Homo sapiens: one gene and its partners. The protein of the gene in region 2 interacts with the protein of the main gene of each other region in a pairwise test. Each region holds a gene or a part of one and is shown on either strand. Other genes may lie near its edges.

Region 1 (7,556 bases), on a different chromosome or scaffold from region 2:
ATCCCAGCTACTCAGGAGGCTGAGGCAGGAGAATCGCTTGAACCAGGGGAGGCAGAGGTTCGCAGTGAGCCGGAAATTGTGCCATTGCACTTCCAGCCCAGGCAATAGTGTGAGACTGTTTAAAAAAAAAAAAAAAAAAAAAAAAAAAAAAAAAAAAAAAACTTGTTTCGAATACTGTAATTCAAAAAATGCTATCTTTTTTATTTTTATTTTTATTTTTTTTGAGATGGATTTTCGCTCTGGTTGCCCAGGCTGGAGTGCAATGGCGCAATCTCGGCTCACCACAACCTCTACCTCCCGGGTTCAAGTGATTCTCCTGCCTCAGCCTCCTGAGTAGCTGGGATCACAGGCATGTGCCACCATGCCCAGCTAATTTTGTATTTTTAGTAGAGACATGGTTTCTCCATGTTGATCAGGCTGGTCTGGAACTCCCAACCTCAGGTGATCCGCCCGTCTTGGCCTCCCAAAGTGCTGGGATTATAGGCGTGAGCCACCGTACCCAGCCCAAAAAATACTATCTTAACACTCATTAAGAGACACTGATCAAACTAGGATGTGCCAGACAGACATGGTGTCCGTCCTCAAGGTTACTGGAAAACAGTATTCCATTTCTTTATTCCTGCCCTCAATTGCTCCCCACCCTCTCCCTAAGGCCCTTTTAGAATGAGCTCAACCTAATACAACAAATCCATCTTCAAATTGCTCCCTAGTCTTTTAAAATCTATACTACAAACATTTAAAAAACAAAATATTCGGGTTTAATGTCAAGAAGGCATATACTGGTTGGATGCAGTGGCTCACACCTGTAATCCCAACACTTTGGAAGGCCAAGGCAAGAGGATCACTTATAGCCAGGAGTTTGGGACCAGTCTGGACAACACAGTGAGACCTCACCTCTATTTTTATATTAAAAATTTTTTAAAAGAGGTGTCTATTTCTCAGATGAATTTTCAGTTTAATAAATTATTTAGCAAACACTCCAAAATGTGTTATTTCTAACTCTTCTCCATTCTCTTGAACTTCCTATTTTCATGTTCTTTTTAACCACCAAACAAACCTTTACAAATTGCCCTTGTTTAGCTTAGTCACTGAGCAAACTCTTTGTCATCTTTCAATTCTTACCTTGGATGCTCCCCTCTCTTGTGTGACACCATCCCTAAACATACCAGAGTGACATAAGTGCTTTTCTCCTTGAGTCCTGTTTATATATGACTTGGATAAAGTCATCATCTTTTTATAATGTAATTGTCTACATGTCCATTTTCATCTGCTATGCTCCTTCACCACACATACACATGTGGTGTATGTGTGTTGGCACTCAAATCACTCAAATATTCGCACATTTCAGAAAATCTAAACCAATCCCTTTGAATTAGATTCAAAGGGATTGTAAATAAAATCTGATAATTTCCTATCACACAGTAAGTGCTTTTTGACATTAGGATAATTTTTGTGATTGGTATTGAATATAAATGTCTATCATAGAAAAATCCAAACTTTATATCAAAGAGCACTTAACCATAAATGGGTATTTATATTGTGAAATTTAAAGATCAGCGCAACAATGAACTTTCAGTTTATTCTATGATTGCTATAGTAAGTCTCAAACTGCATGTTTTCTACAGGAAATAAATCTGATGAAGACAATTAACTGTTGGAACCATTTAAACAAATGTGTTTGTTTCTTAACTTCTTAGAGTCATTAATAATACACTCTAACTATCCCATGTAGAGACAACATTTCTCAACCTTAAATTTGATCACAGGTATCTTTTGAGTGGTAGGGATGCCTACTAATAACAAAGAATAACTACTATTAAGTTAAAAAATATAGTTTAGGAAATGCCTAACCAGAAATTTTCCATTGCCAGAAAATGGCTTCCAAAGTAAATAGAAAAACAAAGACTTTGTTGAAATTTTTAAGATTGATAGTCTATAAAAATTGTAACAGTAAAATCGTGATTTTTTAAAAGTATACAAGAGCCCCTCCCACTCCCTTTATCCTTGGAGATACATTCCAACACCCTCAGTGGATGTTTGAAACCCTGGAAAATACCAAACCCTATATATACTATTTTTTTCCAATTCCTATATACCTATGATAAAGCTTAATGTATAAATTAGGCACCGTAAGAGATTAGGAGGAATACCTAATAATAAAATAGAACAATTATAACAATATATTGTAATAGAACTAAAATAAGGGCACTGTGATACTGCAACAGTCCATCTGATAACTGCAATGGCTCCTAAGTGACTAACAAGAGAGTAATGTCTATTGCATGGATGGATATGCTAGATAAACGGAGGATTCACGTCCCAGGTGGGATGGAGCTGGATGGCATGAGATTTCATCATGCTACTTTGGCATGCAATTTAAAACTTATGAATATTTCTGGAATTTTCTTTTTAATATTTTCGGATTGTTACCGGTGGAAGGTGTCCAGGTTCTTGGTGTTTTGAACAAAGAACTGGAAAAACACACAAGCAAAGCAAGGAAAGAATGAAGCAACAAAAGCAGAGATTTACTGAAAACAAAAGTACGCGCCACAGGGTGGGAACCATCTGAGCATAGGGGCTCAAGGGCCTCCTTACAGAATTTTCTAGGGTTTAAATACCCTCTAGAGGTTTCCCATTGGTTACTTGGTGTACACCTTATGTAAATGTAAATGAAGTACTAGCCCACAATCAGTCTGATTGGTTGTGAAAAACAACCAATTAGAGGCTGAAGCAAAGTTACAAAGTTACACTCCTACGCAAACGTCTGATTGGTTGCAGAAAGCTACCAAGCAGAGATACTTTCAATTTTCTATCTGCCACGCAGAAAAAAAGAGGGGTTTGCAAAGGGCGTAGCTTTGGGTCCTTTTGTTACTTAGGTATGGGAAGTTGGGGTTTTCCTTTTGATTTAGCTCTAGGAAGTCAGCATGAATCGGCCTTAGGTTCCCTGCCTCAATAGGAGACCCTATTCTCCTGCCTCAAGATCATGTTTAACCCTTGGTAACTGAAACTGCCTATTGCATATAAGAACTACTGTATTTTAATTATATTAACTCCTCTAAATTATTTTGGTCTTAAGCTAGAATAACTTTTATGGAGAAAAACATCTATAATTGGTCACTGAAAAAAATAGAAGGGAAAATATTCATCTAAAGGGTCAGTTCACTGACACTACTATTTAATATGCATTTTTTAGCCAGATCTAATAGTCATGAGAAAATCATCCCTGACATCCAGGGACTGACCTGACACAGCTACACCACAGTGTTGGGAGATAGCTTGACATTCACAACTAGGCTATGATTTTCCTATCGAACACCAACTAATCAGAGAGGGTCACTCTGTGACTGTGGTGAAGCAAGGCAAAAAAAAGAAAAAAAAAAAAAAGACCAGTTTATAATTTTGTCTAAGCAGAGACAAAAACAATGCGACTGTGCAAACCACAAAACATTAGCTTTCATTATTAATAATTTTACCCAGTAGTCTGGTAACATTGATACTGGCCAGTCAGCTTGGTGAAATAATCCAAACATTTACCTATGCAGAACAGACTAAGACAAAAATAAAGTAGGCACATAATACATTTCAGCATAAAGACCATATATGTATATTATCTAGTACAGGAAGCCCACTACTATTTAGTCCTACTTCACAGATTTGATTCTTAGTTAACTACTTAATTAGATGTCTTACCAAAGAAAATGACAAGCTGTCTTGGCATGTATTTTGAAATTTAAAATAATGTGAGCTTTTTTAAAGTAACTACTCTTGGGGCTTAAAACACAATTGCATACTGTGTCTGAAATGGATTTGGCTCCTCTTCTTACACTGTCAGCAATTAACTGAAAAAATTGATAAATATTATGTAATTATCAGTTAATTACTGTTAACCCAGGCAAACAAGTTAATTTCACATAAAACATGAAATCAGGCCGGGCGCTGTAGCTCACGCCATTAAACCCAGCACTTTGGGAGGCCGAGGTGGGTGGATCCCCTGAGGTCAAGAGTTCGAGACCAGCCGGGCCAACATGGCAAAACCCCGTCTCTACTAAAAATATAAAAATTAGCCGGGCGTGGTTGTGGCGCCTGTAATCCCAGCTACTCCGGAGGCTGGAGCAGGAGAATCGCTTAGAACCTGGGAGGCGGTGGTTGCAGTGAGCAGAGATCGTGCCACTGCACTCCAGCCTGGGCGGCAGAGAGAGACACTGTCTCGAAAAAAAAAAAAAGAAAAGAAAAGAAATCAGCCACGATTCAGATTTTTAATGCTAACAAGACGTTTTGCTTTCTAAATGCACACACCTTTAATATAAGGGGTGTGAGGACAGATATTTCCACAATCTAAGTGGTGTTATGACAATAATTACGAGAGCTCAGTAATAGAAACTATGTTTAACTTTACCTCGCTAGCAGCCAGGAGTCTAGCACATTATAGGTACTAAACAATGTTGTTTAGTACCTATAATGTGGTTTTGGAGAAGCAGTGCAAACGCAGCCGGCCAGGATGCCAGCAGTGCCTGCCCACGTGAGCTAGGCGACATCCCCCTAAGCGGCTGCGGCGCATGCCCACAGCGGGCGAGGCGCTAGAGGCGGGGGCGCCGGGAGGCGCGGGCTTTGCTCCTGGGGTCTCGGCCTTGGCCGGCTGGACCTGACCCTAGGGCGGCTTGCGCAGCTGTCGGGACGTGACTGCGTTCAGCCGCGTCGGGCGTGCTTCCCAGACTTGCCCAAGTTCGGGTGCCCTAGCTGCCCCTTTGCAGCCGCTGGCCTACCCGGCCCGCGGGTGAGAAGGTTGCGACGGGAGGTGGGTGGAACTCGCCAGCGCCGGGACCGCGGATTGGCTGCCTCGGCTTTCTCTTTTCCCCGTGGGCTCCGGCGTGAGGCGCTGAAGCGGCCGGCAGCCGGCGACCGGCCCTCACCGTCCGCCGGGTTGCGCTCTGCTTTTGCGGTGAGGCGTTGACCACGCCCATATGAATTGGAGCTCTCCGCCAGTAGGAGTTTCCGGAAGGAGTTTGAATTTTTGTGATTTTTATGCTTGTTTGGTCGGTGGAATATGTTGGGATTTATGTTTGCCTCTGAACAAGTGTCTTGCTCACATCGTAAATGACTTTCTCTCCGAAACGCTAAATATTCTTTCCCGCAGGAGCTCATATCCTTATTTTCCATGACAGATCTTAACGACAATATATGCAAAAGATATATAAAGATGATAACTAATATAGTTATACTGAGCCTGATCATTTGCATTTCGTTAGCTTTCTGGATTATATCAATGACTGCAAGCACCTATTATGGTAAGTCTGAGTGTTCTAAGTTGTTTCTCTGTAATCTAGTCAGAGGAAATTAAAACCATACCATTGTGAAATCCAAAACTCATATCCTCTGAATGGTTATGAATGGTTGTGTTTACTTAACTTCCATAGCCTGATTTAACTTACTAACATGATAGTATAAACAATGCCTTTAATAAATGCTTGTTGTGATAATTCGAGTTATACCTATTTCTTTTTTTTTTTAATTTTTATTTTGTATAAGATAGGGGTCCCTCTGTGTTGCTAGGCTGGTCTCAAACCCCTAGGCTCAAGTGATCCTCCCACCTGTGTCTCCCAAAGTGCTGGCAATACAGGCCACCACTTCTGGACTAGTTACACCTATTTCAAAATGTCTTTATATTTTATGTAACTATTCCATCTGTCTTGGTAAAAGATAAGTGAGGCGAATATAGCTTTGTAAAGCAATTACAGTGATGCTTTTAATTTTGAATAAGAATATTAGTAATGGGCCAGGCGCGGTGGCTCACGCCTGTTATCCCAGCACTTTGGGAGGCCGAGGCGGGCAAATAACCTGAGGTCGGGAGTTCAAGACCAGCCTGGCCAACACGGTGAAACCCCAGCTCTACTAAAACTAGAAAAAAGCTGTAATCCCAGCTACTTGGGAGATGGAGGCAGGAGAATCACTTGAACCCTGGAGGCGGAGGTTGCAGTGAACCAAGATTGAGCCACTGCACTCCAGCCTGGGCCACAGAGCGAGAATCCGTCTCAAAAAAAAAAAAGTAGTAATGTAGTTTATCAGTTTCACATGTTCTGTAAAAATAATAAGAATTAAAAACGGTATACTATTTACATTTGGAGAGCTGAAGGACTTATCTGCCATTTGGTTGCTTCAAAAGAATAGACTCCTTTTAAAGCCTAAAGCTACATTGCTTAAATATAAGGTACTCTGGACTCAGATCTTTAAAGTTTTAAAGGTGCTTTAGAGCATAAGCCTCCATTTACACAAACTTCCTTCTCCTATGAAAACAAAATACTGGTCAGTTTGCAACAAAGGAAAAATGAAAAGGAGAATGAGAATGCTTGTATCGTAAGGGATTGCCATTTCAGACTGTAGGCTTTTTGCAAAGAGACATGTGAATAGTTGGAAAGGGTTCTCCAGGCTACAGAAGCTCTCAGTGCAGTTCGTTCATAATGATTCACAGTGGGGCATCAGAGTTTTAGGGGAGGGGTGTAAGAAAAGATTCTTGTTAGTGACAGTATTTACTATGACTTGAACTAAATGGAATAAATCAGGATTTGTAAACTGAAATATCCCTCTGGGGCCAGTCACCTAATGCAAATGAATCTGTGTACGTTTTTGTGTATTAGACCTGTGGTAATAGTTTTCATTTCCAGAAATAGGATATTTCTCATCTTTTGTTGAATGCTTGGGCCCTCTTTGTCTTTCATTTCCCCTTTATTTTTCTGAGACGGAGTTTCGCTCTTTTTGCCCAGGCTGGAGTACAGTGGCACGATCTCAGCTCACTGCAACCTCTGCCTTCTGGTTTCTCCTGCCTCAGCCTCCCAAGTAGCTGGGATTACAGGTGCCTGCCACCATGCCTGGCTAATTTTTGTATTTGTAGTAGAGACAGGGTTTCATCATGTTGGCCAGGCTGGGTCTCGAACTCCTGACCTCAGGATCCTCCTGCCTTGGCCTCCCAAAGTGCTGGGATTACAGGCATGAGCCACTGCGCCCGGCCCATTTTCTCATTTTTGATAGAAACATAGATACAAGCAGTGGTTCACAGTTTTCTTTACCATAAGGAAATCACTTTGCCTTGGCGTTTAGGAGCCTATCAGGAGGGGTGGGAACTTTAAATGGGAAAGCCACGGCCTGTTTAAAGGAGGGCACCTCTCTTTACCTTAAGTCAATTCTGCCATGTTGGCCAGAACTTCCCAATTTTAAAACAGAAGCCAAGAATCTGGATTTTTATATGATATCTCCTAATCTTTAAATATTGACTAAAATTATTTGAAAACACTCTGCTAGCCAAACATCTGTGAGCTGGATGCAGCCTCTGGAATAATCAATTTCTAACCATTGAATGAGGTGTCTGTCCTCTGACAGGCAGAGAGGAGTAAGATCCTGTTACAAAAAGAGTTCGTTCTAGGTAGTCCTTGAAATTTAATACGTGCCCCCTTTAAAAAAAATGAACCAGAGGTTCATTTTAAATATCTAGATATCCATTATTATCATAAATAGCAGTAAAAGGTTTTCAAAACTTGGACATAACCTATTTGGCCATTCTCCAG
Region 2 (7,024 bases):
TGTGGAAGCTCCCCACCCTAGTGGCATCTCCCATAGGCTCCAAAGCACTCTCCCTCCACAGAGAAGACGCAATCACAGAGGAGCCCATGACATCCACCCTGCCTGGGCCTAGTGCCCGTACCAATTTGGTGCTGGGCAGGCCAGGGGGCCAGGAGGCACAGGCCAGACTTTCCTGTCTGGGGTGAAAATAACTGGTACCTTATCTGCAGCAGACTCATCACCTTGTTCCTGTTAATATCAAGGTCTTGCCCAAAAGAATAAATAGTTTGGACAAGAAGCAATGGAAACAAAAAGTATCTAACAGGGAGGAGAGGACTCACAGCCTACCAGGGATTCAGCATTATCTTCGAGAAAGCTGCTGACTGGATGTGCGTCATTCTGTTATGAAATCTGAAACAAGGGAGACCCCCAGGGGAAGCCAGGATCTTGGACGTGCTGGCAGCAGCATCACATACCTATCAGCATCCACACAGCAAACCGGACCCAGGTGCCCTGGTCCAGCTGCATCATGAGATAGACGTTCACGAAGATGCTCAGGATGGGGAGCACTGGCAGGAAGGGAACCTGAAGAGACAGGAGGTGGCTTCAATCCATGGCAGTGGCGCCGGTTCCAATAGTTCAGTAAAACTGTCTAGTAAAGGCAGCACAACTGAGAGTGACAGGGACCGTCGGGCGAGTGTGGGGAAGAGAGAGGGAGTGCCCACCCCCACTCCCACACCCCACACACAGCCCGCACCCAAACACACACACAAACACACCCAAGGGTACATCTTAGTAGGTGGGGATTTGATTCTAAGCTCTGAATGGCCAAATGAACTCCATTCTCATTTTTCTCTGTTGCGATTCTCCTGCTAAAGAAAGGACTAGAAGACGGACCTCCACTTTACCTCTAAGGTCAACAACCTTTTTTATTATTTGTGTAATCTAAAAATGCAGAAGCCTTGCCCGTCTCCAAGGCTTGGAAAACTCATGCATCAACTTGAGCAGACATTTACGAGAAGCATCCCACCACCCCGGAGGGACTGCTCCACTGGGTCTGCTATTATGTATAAACTTAGGGGCAAGTGGCTTCATGAGCAGCACCCTTGATACTGTCTGGGGAAGAGGCAGCACATTTCATAAAACACTGATCACAAGGGACATTTATTTTCCAGAGAATTCAGAAATAGATGCCGAATATCCAGGGACTGGCGAGGTCTCTCTTGGCCTGTGTCATGCAGGAAGGTGTCAGCCTGCCCTTGACTACTCAGGGAAACGTCCAGGGGAGAAGGGCTGCTGCCTCCTTCCAGGGTCTGGTCCTCTCTGTGCCTTCAGGACCCCTGCCCCATCTTACCTGAAGCTGGCTAGCAAAAACCTTCCTCGGGAGCACCCAGGCCCGGCTGAGCCCACGCAGGGCTGGCCAGGCATCAGGAGGGCCAGGGTCTGTGTACCAGGGTTCCTTCCCTAGGCCGAGCTGCTCACCTTAAATGAGAGCTTGGTCTTGCTCTCGGGCTGCCTCCAGATGACGCCCGTGACCACGGCACAGAGGAGGGCAGACCCTGCGAGCAGAAAGACTGCCCACAGCGCCCCTTTGGTGAGAGCCTCCCTTCCAAGCACGGTCACAATGCAGAAGGTGATGATGAGAACAGCTAAGGGGGAAGGAAAAGACAGCAAGCTGCAACTCAACCATTTCCCAATTTCCCACAGGCATCCACTGTTCTCCCCTAAACTTGTGGAGAGAGAGGCTCCATTTCCGAAGGCACAACTACAGTTAACACAGAGTAACTATGTCCCAGTCCAGGAGCAAGACAGATGCTCATCTTCTCTGGCACCTTCCCCCAACTCCAGCTCCACTGCCTAGAAACCATGCAATGCCAACAAGCAAGGCCCCAGGGAAGGGCTAGCTCTTACCTATGAGGCTGGTTGAAATGTTCACAATTAGCCCAGAGATTTTGGAAGGCTCCATGTTTTTGGGTGAGAGTATGGTTTTCAAAGAGAACATCTCTGCCTCTGGTAAAAAGCCCAGCTGGGAATCATTGGTGCTTGCCAATTCATTTTGGTCTGCTGGATCTAACTCGTCGGAAGTACTGGCCATCTGGTATACCAGGTTAGGCTGCTCTGGCTGGTACCTGGGAAGAAAGGCATTGCGTGACCGCCACATCTGCTTCAAGCAAAATGACGTGCACCAACTCAAGTTCTCAATAAGCCTCCAAAGTGAGCTGCCCGGGACACAAGGTATAAAATGGGAAGGATATAGTCAAATGCTGCATTGTAGATAGACGAGGAGAGACCGGGAACACCACCTCCCGCTGTTGCTTCTGGGGAACATCCTCCATGGTCTCTCCTTCGGGGCGACATGACCTCCACCATGAGCAGCCCAGAGGAATACCCTGAGAGGATCTCTCTTGCTCTGAGAAGTGGCAGCGGCCCTCAGATGCTAAAGATACTAGGCCACTTCCCACAAAATTACTGCTGTAGGGAGCAAAAGGGAAGGAGAGAAATAGGAAGCAGTAATGCCAGGATCCTATTTGGCACAGAGAGCCAGAGAAATGTGGCTGCAGGCTAGATGGATTTGAGAAATTCTATTTGTGTGACTTAATTGGATCAATTTATTTTAAAACTCCAAGTACCTTAGGGTAAATAATTCTATGTGGCTTGTTGGAGGGCCGAGCCTGCAGCGTGATTTCCAAGACATGAGCTACCTGCTAGTGGAGCATCCATTCTGAATGAGGTGCCTTATCTTCCCACCCGAAATGAACAGAGTGCAAATCTTTTCCACCAGCTTTGAAACACAGAGTTCTGTATGAATTATTTTGCATATGATCAATTCTAAGAGGGAGTATAAAGATATTAACCATTTTTGTATGGATTCACTTGTGCAACCCCACTCGGTCAATTAAGAAAGTGGGAGACCTCAGAGAATATTCTAGCATTGGGCCCCTTGGGAGGAATAAGGGGTCCCCAATAGTCTTAGCTGATTCTAAAGAGCTTCTGCTAAGGCTCAGCCCGGGTTTTATGTGCATCAGCTGCTGAACACCTTGGAAATGCAATCAATGGCCTTGCAGGTGGGAATCCCTGAAAAGAAATGAGGAGGCTCTTGAGGGGAGACCAGTGCTGAGCGTCTCCATGAGCACAGGTTCTCAGGATGGAAGCTGCGCAGGGATGTGCTTTGGGAGTGGGTGCTGAGGCAGGTGAGAACACCGAGACACCAAGCCTAGGCCCAGAGCAGCTTTACTGTGACTGGGAGAGGCTTGCCTGGCCCCCACCAGGCTATAACAAGCTGACTCCACAGTGTCTCTGAACATCAACCTAGGGCACGCCATGCCACATAATGGGATTCATTCCTCCAGCCACAGCGCAACGAAGCTGCAGAAGCATTATGCTGAGCTGGGTTTCACAGGCCTTGGGTTTTCCTAACTCCTACCAGGGCAGCCCTCAATCCTCTCTGTCCCAAGAATCTGAACCAAGTTGCAATCAGTCTTCAAACCTTCTGATCCCAGGATCCTGGCCTAATAGTTGGACCGAGAATCTGTCTCTATCCACCCAACATTTAGCCATAAAAATGAGGGCACATGATAGAGGGGGGTGAGGGGCCACCCAACTCTTGCCAAGGACGTCCTCCTAACTGGGCTCTCAACCCAGGTCCTCCCCTCTCCTTGGCAGCTCCCAATGGAGCTATCACCAACCTAAAAGTTTCATTCATCACATAAACCATAGCTGAACTGTGAAAAGGCTACCAGGTGCATCTGCATTTCTGTCATGAGACCCCCAAAAGCCATACATACCGTAAGACCAACACACAGGCAGCCACCAACGAGTAAGCCAGGAGAGTGCCAATGGACATGAGGTCCACCAAGTCCTTCAGGTCAAAGAGGAAGGCCATCACAGCTGGGAAGAGACAGACACCAGGATCTGTGGAGGGCCATCTGCATGCAATGACAACCAGGACCACCACTGCCGCCCACCATCCAGGGCAGCGAAGGGGGCTGCTTTTACTCCCACCCCCTCCCTGGCCTTCCCATGGAAAGACACAGCTTAAAGGGAAGTCAAGCTTCCCTTTAAGCTTGTGATTAAATCACAGACACAGTCCTCAACAGACAGTAATCATCATTAACATTTGTATAGAGAATCCCTTCATTCTTGTGATTTTAATGGCAACTTTGTAAGCCATCCCTACATTATAGATATAAACATTCACAAAGGTTAGGAGACTCATCTAAGGTCACACAGTTCACAAGCATAGGGTATAAGGATGTGAACTGGGTTCTTATGACTCTGAGTCCTGTGTGTCTTCCTCTAGACCATGCTGATTCACAGACTCATGTGCATCCATCCATCATCCATCCTATCGGTCCATCCATTCTCCATCAATCCATCTGTCCACCTATCTTCCATTCATCCACTCACCATCCATCCATCAATCCATCTCATCCATCTGCCCATCTCCCATCCATCTCATCCATCTATCTATCCATCCATCCATTCATCCATCCGATCCACCCATCCATCCATTCAGCATCTATCCATCTACCCATCTTCCATCCATCCAGCTCCGGTCAGAGTGTGCCCATCATTGGGTTCTAGGTACTCACTATTGAACAGGGCAGACCACAGTCCCCAGCCTTCCTGAGTGTACCCCACCAAGACACAGGCATTAGTGGACAACAGTGCTGGGTGATAAAGAAGGGCAAGTCTGGTGCTCTGGGAGGACTCACAGGAGGTCCTAACCCAGGCAGGCGGGCAGGAGAGCAGAGTTCTTCACATGTGAAGTCACTTCACGTGGAAGAAATCTGAAGAGTTGTTCTCAAACAATATAGTATCAGCCCCTTCACTGTGTCCCTTGCCTTTAAAATGAATTAAAACCTGCACCCTTATTTGAACATCTTTTGTGAGCGTTGTGAGAGTATACGTGTCTATTCACATGGGTGTGTATGTCAAGTACTCATTAAAAAACAACTTGGCTACATCTGCTTTGGGATATTTTCAAAACACATGCAATCAACACAAGCTAAAATATAAACACAAAGCCATTATTTTTCCACAAATATCTCTCAAGCCCCTCTAGATCACTGCAACTAAAACAAATTTAAATGGAGAATAAAACACAAAATTAAAGAGCAATGAGGGAGGGCCTTTTGGATAATCAGAACAGCGCCCAACTGTGCATGCCACAAATGCCGATGTTCCTACTCACGGGAAACTTGAGACTAATTTCTTCCATGTGAGGTGATTTTAGAAAACCAAATACTTATTTACCACTCCCACCAAATGAAAAGGGTAAATCCTGGATTTTGTGAATGGCATGTACTTTACAGTCACTTCAAAGAGCATGATTTGATCTCCCTCTATCAGCAGGGGAAGGAAATTAAGGCCAGTCTTTAATATGATCAAATTCCACGTAAAGCCTGAGAAAACAATGACTATTTCCAAGTCCTTAATCCTGTAAATATACTGGTCACATTCTGATGTATAGTGCCTCTCAATCTGACCACTGTGGTCACTCTCAAGAGCATAGAATCACATAAGAAAATGTTTCATAATTTAAAAATAGGTGTGTTTTATTATACAATATTAATCCACAAAACTAAGCACAGTTTGCTAAAGGCATAAATGCTAATAAAACTTAGTGAATAATTCATTCATTTAAGAAGGTCAAGTGCCTTACCAATGGCTATTTGACAAGTCGCTGTGTTAGAAACTGTGACTGATCTCACATGCCCTAATTTGCCAAAAAGACCCACTGCTCTGCTCAGACTCTGGAAGGAGCTTGGCTACTTTGGCATAAAAACAACCCTGGAATCACAAGGCCGCTCCACCGCCCTGGGTGCACATCCTCGCTTCACCTCCCTGGGCCTCCACTTCTACATCTGTACAGTGGGCTGACGTCTGCCTTTTGGGGCTACGAAATGCAATTGCGAAAGGGGCGGGCGTCTGCCTCTCGGGGCTATGAAATGCAATCGCGAAAGGAGGAGACATAGACCACAGGTACAGTGTGCACACGAGCTTCCTTGTAGGTTCTCCTTTCCTTCATCTGGGGCCCTGGAACACCTACACGGCTCAGATTAGTCCACTGATTTCATCCATCAAAATGGTCCTCTCAGCGATGAGGCTCATCTGACAAGATGAAACTCCACTGGGTCTGCTATTACGTATAAACTTAGGGGCAAGTGGCTTCATCAGCAGCACCCTTGATACTCTCTGGGGAAGAGGCGGCACATTTCATAAAACACTGATCATAAGGGACACTTGTTTTCCAGAGAATTCAGAAATGGACGCCGAATTTCCAGGTACTGGCGAGGTCTCCCTTGGCCTGTGTCATGCAGGAAGGTGTCAGCCTGCCCTTGACTACTCAGGGAAACGTCCAGAAATGGGGAGAAAAGGTTTTCGAATACTGTGTGTTCTAAGCTCCGCCCATTGAGATGAAAACCAGAGTGCAAACTGTTCAAAAATTCTCTCCCATCCTCTGTCAAACGGGCCTCTGCCTTTTGTCAAAAGGTCAGTCAACTTTCAATGAACCAGGCTCCAAGTATAAAAACCAGGAGTTAAAAAGACCAGTTAAGATTACTCACAGACCAGAACTGCGCAAGACGTCTCCCTAGGGAGTAATGACTCCATTGTTAAAACATTTCCATGTGAAATGAGTTCTAGTACTCACCAGCAACGGCACCCGAGGCTAATGTGGCGATTATTGGTGTTTTGGTCCTATCATTGACGTTGGCTAAGAATTTAAATAGCAGTCCATCCTCAGCCATGGCATAGATAACCCGAGGCATGGGAAACATGGAACCTAGAAGACTAGATGGGGAGAGGCAAACCGCGTGAGTGAACCTGGCTCATAAGGGATAAAGGCACCACATCCAGCCATGCTCGGTTTACCACGGAGGAGAGGGAGTCTGAGCTCACCAAGAGCTGCCGTCCCTCCACGCTGGGTGAGGCCTGTGGCTAAAAGACTTGGCATTTAATAAATCAATCCCAGAAAGAGCACACACTGTGAATAAGGATTAAGGTAAAGAATAGGGAACATCTATCTAACATACACTAGCAT
Region 3 (7,024 bases), on a different chromosome or scaffold from region 2:
CTTGTGCCGTTTATACATAGGATTAAAGAACCCCTCTCTCAGCTCTTTCCTCTCCAGTGTTCCTTCCACATTGTTTTGCAAACAGACCCCATTTTCCTGGTCCTCTGTCAAGAAAGACAAGGTTTCTCTATAGAGCTGTGGCTGCATGCAACACTACATGTGTTGCCACCACATAGTTCCATGTGACTTGGGCTTCTATCAAAAGAAAGTAACAGCAGAAAAGGCAGAACAGCATAACCAGGTTTCCCCCATACACTTCAGACCACTGGGATCCCTTGCTAGCTCCGCCTCCCGGGTTCATGCCATTCTCCTGCCTCAGCCTCCCGAGTAGCTGGGACTACAGGTGCCTGCCACCACACCCGGCTAATTTTTTGTATTTTTAGTAGAGACGGGGTTTCACCATGTTAGCCAGGATGGTCTTGATCTTCTGACCTCATGATCCACCTGCCTCGGCCTCCCAAAGTGCTGGGATTACAAGCGTGAGCCACCGCGCCCGGCCTGGGATCCCTTTTTCTATTTGCTCTGGCCAGAAAGATGGGGTTTTAACTGCCTTTGTTGCCACCATGCAGTTCTGCAACTGGGGCTGCCTTAAAGGCAGGACCAGGAAAGAAAAAAGAGGAGGTAGAGAAAAAAAGGGGAGACTTTCCTGTACTTCACTACCTCTTAGCAACCTCTTTTCCTGGTCCTTTGGCCGGAAAGACAGGGTTTTTCTAGAAGTTTTTGCTGCCTTGCCTTCACTTGCTGTTGTTTACTTTTTGTAGTCCTGAAGTAGTTGTTTTTTGGTGTGTTTTGTCCAGTTTTTGTTGTAATCAGTGGGTGATTGACGTCAAAATGCTCTTACTGTAACATGGCCAGCATCAGATGTCTCCAACATTCCTTTTAAAATGTAAAATGTTAATACCTCTGTTAAAGAAGTTTTTTTGTTTGTTTTTTTTTTTTTGAGACGGAGTCTCACTCTGTCGCCCAGGCTGGAGTGCAGTGGCACCATCTCAGCTCATTGCACCCTCCACCTCCCGGGTTCAAGCAGTTCTCTGCCTCAGCCTCCCAAGTAACTGGGATTATAGGTGCCTGCCATCATGCCCAGCTAATTTTTGTATTTTTAATAGAGATGGGTTTCACCATCTTGGCCAGGCTGGTCTTGAACTCCTGACCTCGTGATCCACCTGCCTCAACCTCCCAAAGTGCTGGGAAGAGTAACTCAAAAAAATCTGTGAAGTAACTTAACCATGATATTACCTTTCAGCTAAGCTGTCTCCAGATTTTTTACATCTTTCTTCATACTGATGAGTTTAGACATATCATTGTAATTTTGTTTTTGCTGCTTTACTCTCTCTTTTCTTACCCTCTTCCCTTACCCTTTTTTTTTTTTTTGAGACAGAGTTTTGCTCTTGTCACCCAGGCTGGAGTGCAGTGACACCATCTCGGCTCACTGCAACCACCGCCTCCTGGGTTGAAGTGATTCTCCTGCCTCAGCCTCCCTAGTAGTTGGGATTACAGGCACCTGCCACTAGGCATAGCTAATTTTTGTATTTTAGCAGAGACGGGGTTTCACCATGTTGGCCAGGCTGGTCTTGAACAACTGACCTTAGGTGATCCACCTGCCTTGGCCGCCCAAAGTGCTGGGATTACAGGCATGAGCCACCGCGCCTGACCCCCCTCTTTCTTTATTGTAGACCAAAACAACTTTTCTTCGTACTTCAAGAAAGACGTTTGTATACATGTTACTACAGCCTATGGTTTCGTTCTTCTGTGGACCTTATAATTATAATACATTGTTTTCAGAACTCAGTATATCATGTTAACTAAGTGCTCTGATGCTTTAATAAGCATTATTAAATACTAATTAATGTAAAAAGGAACCTCTTACTCTTCTGTAATTATAGCTCTAAAATCACTGGAATTAGATGATTATCAGCTTTCACGTAAAAAAAAACTGTCTATAGAAACAAGTTTTAAGAACTTCAAAGATTGTTGGGTAATGCAGCACTTTACTGTGCAGCCAAAATTTGAAAACATCTCAAAATTCTTTGGACTGTTAGAATTGGTATGTTTAGGAAGGTAGACTATTGGGTCAAAGATGAAAATATAAATGTGATGTATTGTCAAAACTGCTATTGTCAGCCATGGCTCAATGTAGATTATCCCACTCATTTTTATCAGTTCTGTAAGAATGCCATGTATCAGATTCTTTATAGAGGTATGATTAACTGTGGCTTTTTCTGTCACTTTACTCTACATTAAATAAAATATAGGGGGCCCTAGCCAGAACAGTCAGGCAGACAAAAAAGATAGAAGGCATTCACATTGGAAAGGAAGAAGTAAAGTTGTCTCTGTTTTCAGGTGAGATGATCTTATGCATAGAAATACCTAAGGATTCCACACACAAAAAAATTAGAACTAATAAACAAATGCAGTTAAGTTGCAGGATACAAAATCAGCATACAAATATCAGTTGCATTTTTATACACTAACAATGAACTATTTGAAAAAGAAACTATGAAAACAATTTCATTCATAATAGCATCAGAGGGGGAGGGAAAGCATTAGGAGATATACCTAATGTAAATGAGGAGTTAATGGGTGCAGCACACCAACATGGCACATGTATACATATGTAACAAACCTACACGTTGCGCACATGTACCCTAGAACTTAAAGTATAATTTTTAAAAAAATAATAATAGCATCAGAAAATAAAATAAAATAAAATACTTGGGCATAAATTTAACCAAGGAGGTAAAAGATCTATATGCTGAAAACTATAAAACATTGATTTAAAAAATTGGAGAAAATATAAGTAAGGTATTCTGTGTTCATGAATTGGAAGAATTAATATTGTTAAAATATCCGTAGTACCCAAAGTGATCTACAGATTTAATGCAACCCCTATCATAATTCCAGTGGCATTTGCTATGGTTTGGATATTTGTCCCCTCCACATCTAGTGTTGAAACTTGATCCCAGTGTTGGAGGCGGGGCCTGGTGGGAGGTGTTTGGGTCATGAGGGTGGATCCGTCATGCACATATTGGTGCTATCCCCTTGCTGATGAGTGAGTTCTCCCTCTATAATTTAACAAGAGAACTGGTTGTTTAAAAGAGCATGGCACCCCTCCCCTCTCTCGTCTTGTGAAATACTGACTCCTCTTCCCCTTCTGCAATGATTGGAAGCTTCCTGAGATCCTCAGATTCGTGCTTCTTGGACAGCCTGCAGAACTGTAAGCCAAATAAACCTTAATAGAACGATCCTAAAATTCATATGTAACCACAAAAGGCCCTGAAGCCGGGGTAATTTATAAAGGTCAATTAAAGAGGTTTAGTTGACTCACAGTTCAGCATGGCTGGGGAGGCCTCAGGAAACTTACAATCGTGGCGGAAAGCAAAGGGGAAGCAAGGCACCTTCTTCACAAGGCCGCGGGAAGGAGAAGTGCTAAATGAAGAGGGGAAGGGCCCCTTAAAAACCATCAGATCTTGCAAGAACTCACCATGTAGTACACCTGTAAACCCAGCTACTCGGGAGGCTGAAGCATGAGAACCACTTGAACCCTGGAGGCACAGGGTTGCAGTGAGCCGATATCATGCCACTGCACTCCAACCTGGGTACAGAGTGAGACTCTGTCTCAAAAACATAAGAATAGTGTCAGGCACGGTGGCTCAAGCCTGTAACCCCAGCACTTTGGGAGGTCAAGGTGGGCGGATCACTTGAGCTCAGGAGTTTGAGACCAGCCTGGGCAACATGGCAAAACTACATCTCCACAAAAACAATATAAAAATTAGCAGGACTTGGTAGCTCACATCTGTAGTCCAGATTCTTGGGGGACTGAGGTAGGAGGATGACTTCAGTCCAGGAAATGGAGGTTACTGTAAGCTGAGATTGCACCACTGTAGTCTAGTCTGGGTGAAAGGGCCATACCTGTCTCAAAAAGAAAGAAAGAGAGAGAGACAGAGAAAGAAACAGAAGAGTACATTGTAACTGTTGTAAGGTTGGATATTATTTTGTGAAACTGTTTTGTTTTGTTTTGTTTTTTTGAGACAGAGTCTCCCTCTGTTGCCAGGCTGGAAGGCAGTGGCGTGATCTCGGCTCACTGCAACCTCCGACTCCCTGGTTCAAGCGATTCTCCTGCCTCAGCCTCCTGAGTAGCTGGGATTACAGGCACGCGCCACCGTGCCCAGCTAGTTTTTGTATTTTTAGTAGAGACGGGGATTCACCATGTTGGCCTTGATCTCCTGGCCTCGTGATCTGCCCCCCTTGGCCTCCCAAAGTACTACGATTACAGGCATGAGCCATTGCACCTGGCCTGTTTTGTTTTGTTTTTAAGAGACAGGATCTCTAGGCTGGACACAGTGGCTCATACTTGTAATCCACCACTTTGGGAGGTCAAGGTGGGAGGATCACCTGAGCCCCAGATTTCAAGACCAGCCTAGGCAACATAGGGAGACCACATTTCTACAAAAAAATTTTCAAATTAGCTGGTTATGGTGGTACTTGCCTGTGGTTTCCCAGTTACTTGGGAGGCTGAGGTAGGAGGATTGCTTGAGCCCGGGAGGTCGAGGGTGCAGTGAGCCATAATTGCACCACTGCTGTACTCCAGCCTGGGTGAAAGATGAGACCTTGTCTCAATTTTTAAAGAAGGCTTAAACTGCTTAATCTGATTATAAATGATAAATGTCTAGTATGTTATTCTCTATTCATGAAATATAGCAAAGATAAGCTTTTTGGCCTTTTGAAGCATTTATGTTTTAAATGACAAATATGTTACTGTAAACTGGGATTATCAGCTGGCCAGGTATCATTTACTGCAGTTCAGAGTCTCCCAACCTCCATATTTCTAGAACTGAATTTAGACTGAAGGATGTGCCTCTTAAACTGCTCTGCCCTTTTGGTTTCTTGCTGGCAATTGTCTGCTGATATTTTATAAAGCTAAAAATTTTCTACTCAATTTGTTCCTTATTTTACATTTTTATCTCAGCCTAGGTATAAACTAGATGAATTTGATTGCAATTATTTTCATTGTTACTGCTCTTCATTTGCCTATTTTCATCAGAAAAAAACAGTGTATTTTCTGGTGAGATTGGCATGAATTTCTCAGATAAAGGAATATTTGGGGATGGTGTCCCTTTGGGAATATGATTGCTTTCTTGCATGGTGATTTGCTTCCACTTCCCAGGTGTTGAGAATAATAGGCAGTCAGAAGGTCTGCATGCCAAAGGCAGAAGACATTTGGGAATTTTTTCATCATGAACTTTAAGTTGAAGGAGTTAATGATTGGCTGGATTACAATATAAAAAGTGGATGTCTTTACAGTAAAGTAAGTAGAGCTTGAAATACAAAGAATGGAAACTCCTACATGAAAATGTTTTTAGGGGAAAAACATATTTTCTCTTTATGGTTTATTCTGCTCTAGGAAAACACCACCAAGCAAGTGAAACACATAATGTGATTGCATCAGACAAAGCAGCAGAAAAATCAGTTGTCCATGAACATGAGCACAGCCACGACCACACACAGCTGCATGCCTATATTGGTGTTTCCCTCGTTCTGGGCTTCGTTTTCATGTTGCTGGTGGACCAGATTGGTAACTCCCATGTGCATTCTACTGACGGTGAGTGGCTCCAAGGCTTTCTGGGCAGTGCAATACATTTGCAGTTGAGAAAGTTACAAACGATCAAATATTTCAGTCTGTATCAGTGGCCATATTTAGTGCTAAAACTCTTGTCTTCCTTGGGTTCTAGTGAACATTTAACTAAGTGGGGAGAGCTAGTGAGTTGTGGCATGTGGCGCAAAGAAGTGTTTATTGGTTTATTACTTTGCTTGTCTTAAAGTTGTCACATTTGGTTGAGAGTCTAGGGCAGAAGTTCTTAACTTAGTTTTTTGCTGTGGAGCCCTTAGGCAGTCTAAAGACTGTGGACCTTTTATTGGAATATTGTTTTTAAATGTATAAAACATAGTACATAAGATCAAAGAGAAAACCACCTTTGTTGAAATACAGTTACTAAAACATCAGAACAAATTTGTGATATAGTAATGTATGTCTTTATCAGTGCATTAAATAATGAGATAATACATTTAAATCCTAAACAAGTTAGAGTTGAATTTTATTTTCTAGGACATTAGTATGCTAGCTATTACATAATAATATGCTTGGCTTAAGAACATTAAATTATGAGGTAGTCTGTAACAAGGCAACATGTATGTCAAGTTAAACATCTAGTTGATTTTGGGTTTTTGTTTTGATGGTTATTGGTGTAGAAAATCTTGATTTACAAAGGTATTTTCTTACAAATGTACCTAAACACATTTGTAGCTTGCTTTTTAAGGAATCATAAGCTTCTCTAAAGGACAACTAGAATTCCCCAAGACTTTTCAAATTTGACTCCAGTCATAGTAACTGTTTTGTTTTAAGATCAATGAATTTATCTTTGGCTAGGTCAACATTTTTCATACGATTTATATTAATAAAAAAGGATTCTGATACATGATACACTTCGATCCTGTGGTGATAGAAATAAATTTGAGAGTTATAAAACTTCTCCAGGGATTGATGTGTAGACATATTTTTTCAGATATGTCAGCAGGGAATTTTGCAGATAGGAAATATTGGAAAGCAGCATAAGTATCTTGGTCCCCAATGGGAGAGCCTTGTGACTATCACTGTTTGGTGGCTGAGTGACTGTTAGATGCAGAGCTACTTGATAGTTGCCCAGCTCCATCACATGAGCATCTGCAGACAGGAAAGCTGTAATCATGCAGTATGGCAGCAGTTCTATAAGTCCTTAATTTAAAGTAGTGATGAGTGAAAGCGATAATTTAAAGATAATCTACAACTGTAAAATAACCTGATTAGTCTGATTTCTACTGGCAGTAAAGATAGTGCTGATATTACTTGTGGTTTATTGTCTGCATTCATAATTAAAGGAAATGAGGGGGCAGTCACCATGACTCACCTGTAATCCTAGCACTTTGGGAGGCCAAGATGGGCGGATCCTTTTGAGTTCAGGAGTTTGAGACCAGCCTGGGCAACATGGCA

Evidence for each region. The genes of interacting proteins can lie anywhere in the genome.
Region 1: the proteins of SLC7A1 (region 2) and TMEM19 interact in binary tests that used the Homo sapiens proteins (3 or more experiments, as listed by UniProt).
Region 3: the proteins of SLC7A1 (region 2) and SLC39A9 interact in binary tests that used the Homo sapiens proteins (3 or more experiments, as listed by UniProt).

What each region holds. Positions count from the first base shown.
Region 1 is NC_000012.12:71,681,526-71,689,081, forward strand, and holds the start of TMEM19 (transmembrane protein 19), read left to right. Parts: upstream 1-4,556; 5' UTR 4,557-5,155; coding exon 5,156-5,285; intron 5,286-7,556.
Region 2 is NC_000013.11:29,515,683-29,522,706, forward strand, and holds part of SLC7A1 (high affinity cationic amino acid transporter 1), read right to left. Parts: intron 6,775-7,024; coding exon 6,635-6,774; intron 3,868-6,634; coding exon 3,765-3,867; intron 2,109-3,764; coding exon 1,891-2,108; intron 1,629-1,890; coding exon 1,462-1,628; intron 565-1,461; coding exon 456-564; intron 1-455. UniProt on the Homo sapiens protein: High-affinity, low capacity permease involved in the transport of the cationic amino acids (arginine, lysine and ornithine) in non-hepatic tissues.
Region 3 is NC_000014.9:69,436,668-69,443,691, forward strand, and holds part of SLC39A9 (zinc transporter ZIP9), read left to right. Parts: intron 1-5,164; exon of another isoform or gene 5,165-5,305; intron 5,306-5,401; coding exon 5,402-5,599; intron 5,600-7,024. UniProt on the Homo sapiens protein: Transports zinc ions across cell and organelle membranes into the cytoplasm and regulates intracellular zinc homeostasis. Participates in the zinc ions efflux out of the secretory compartments.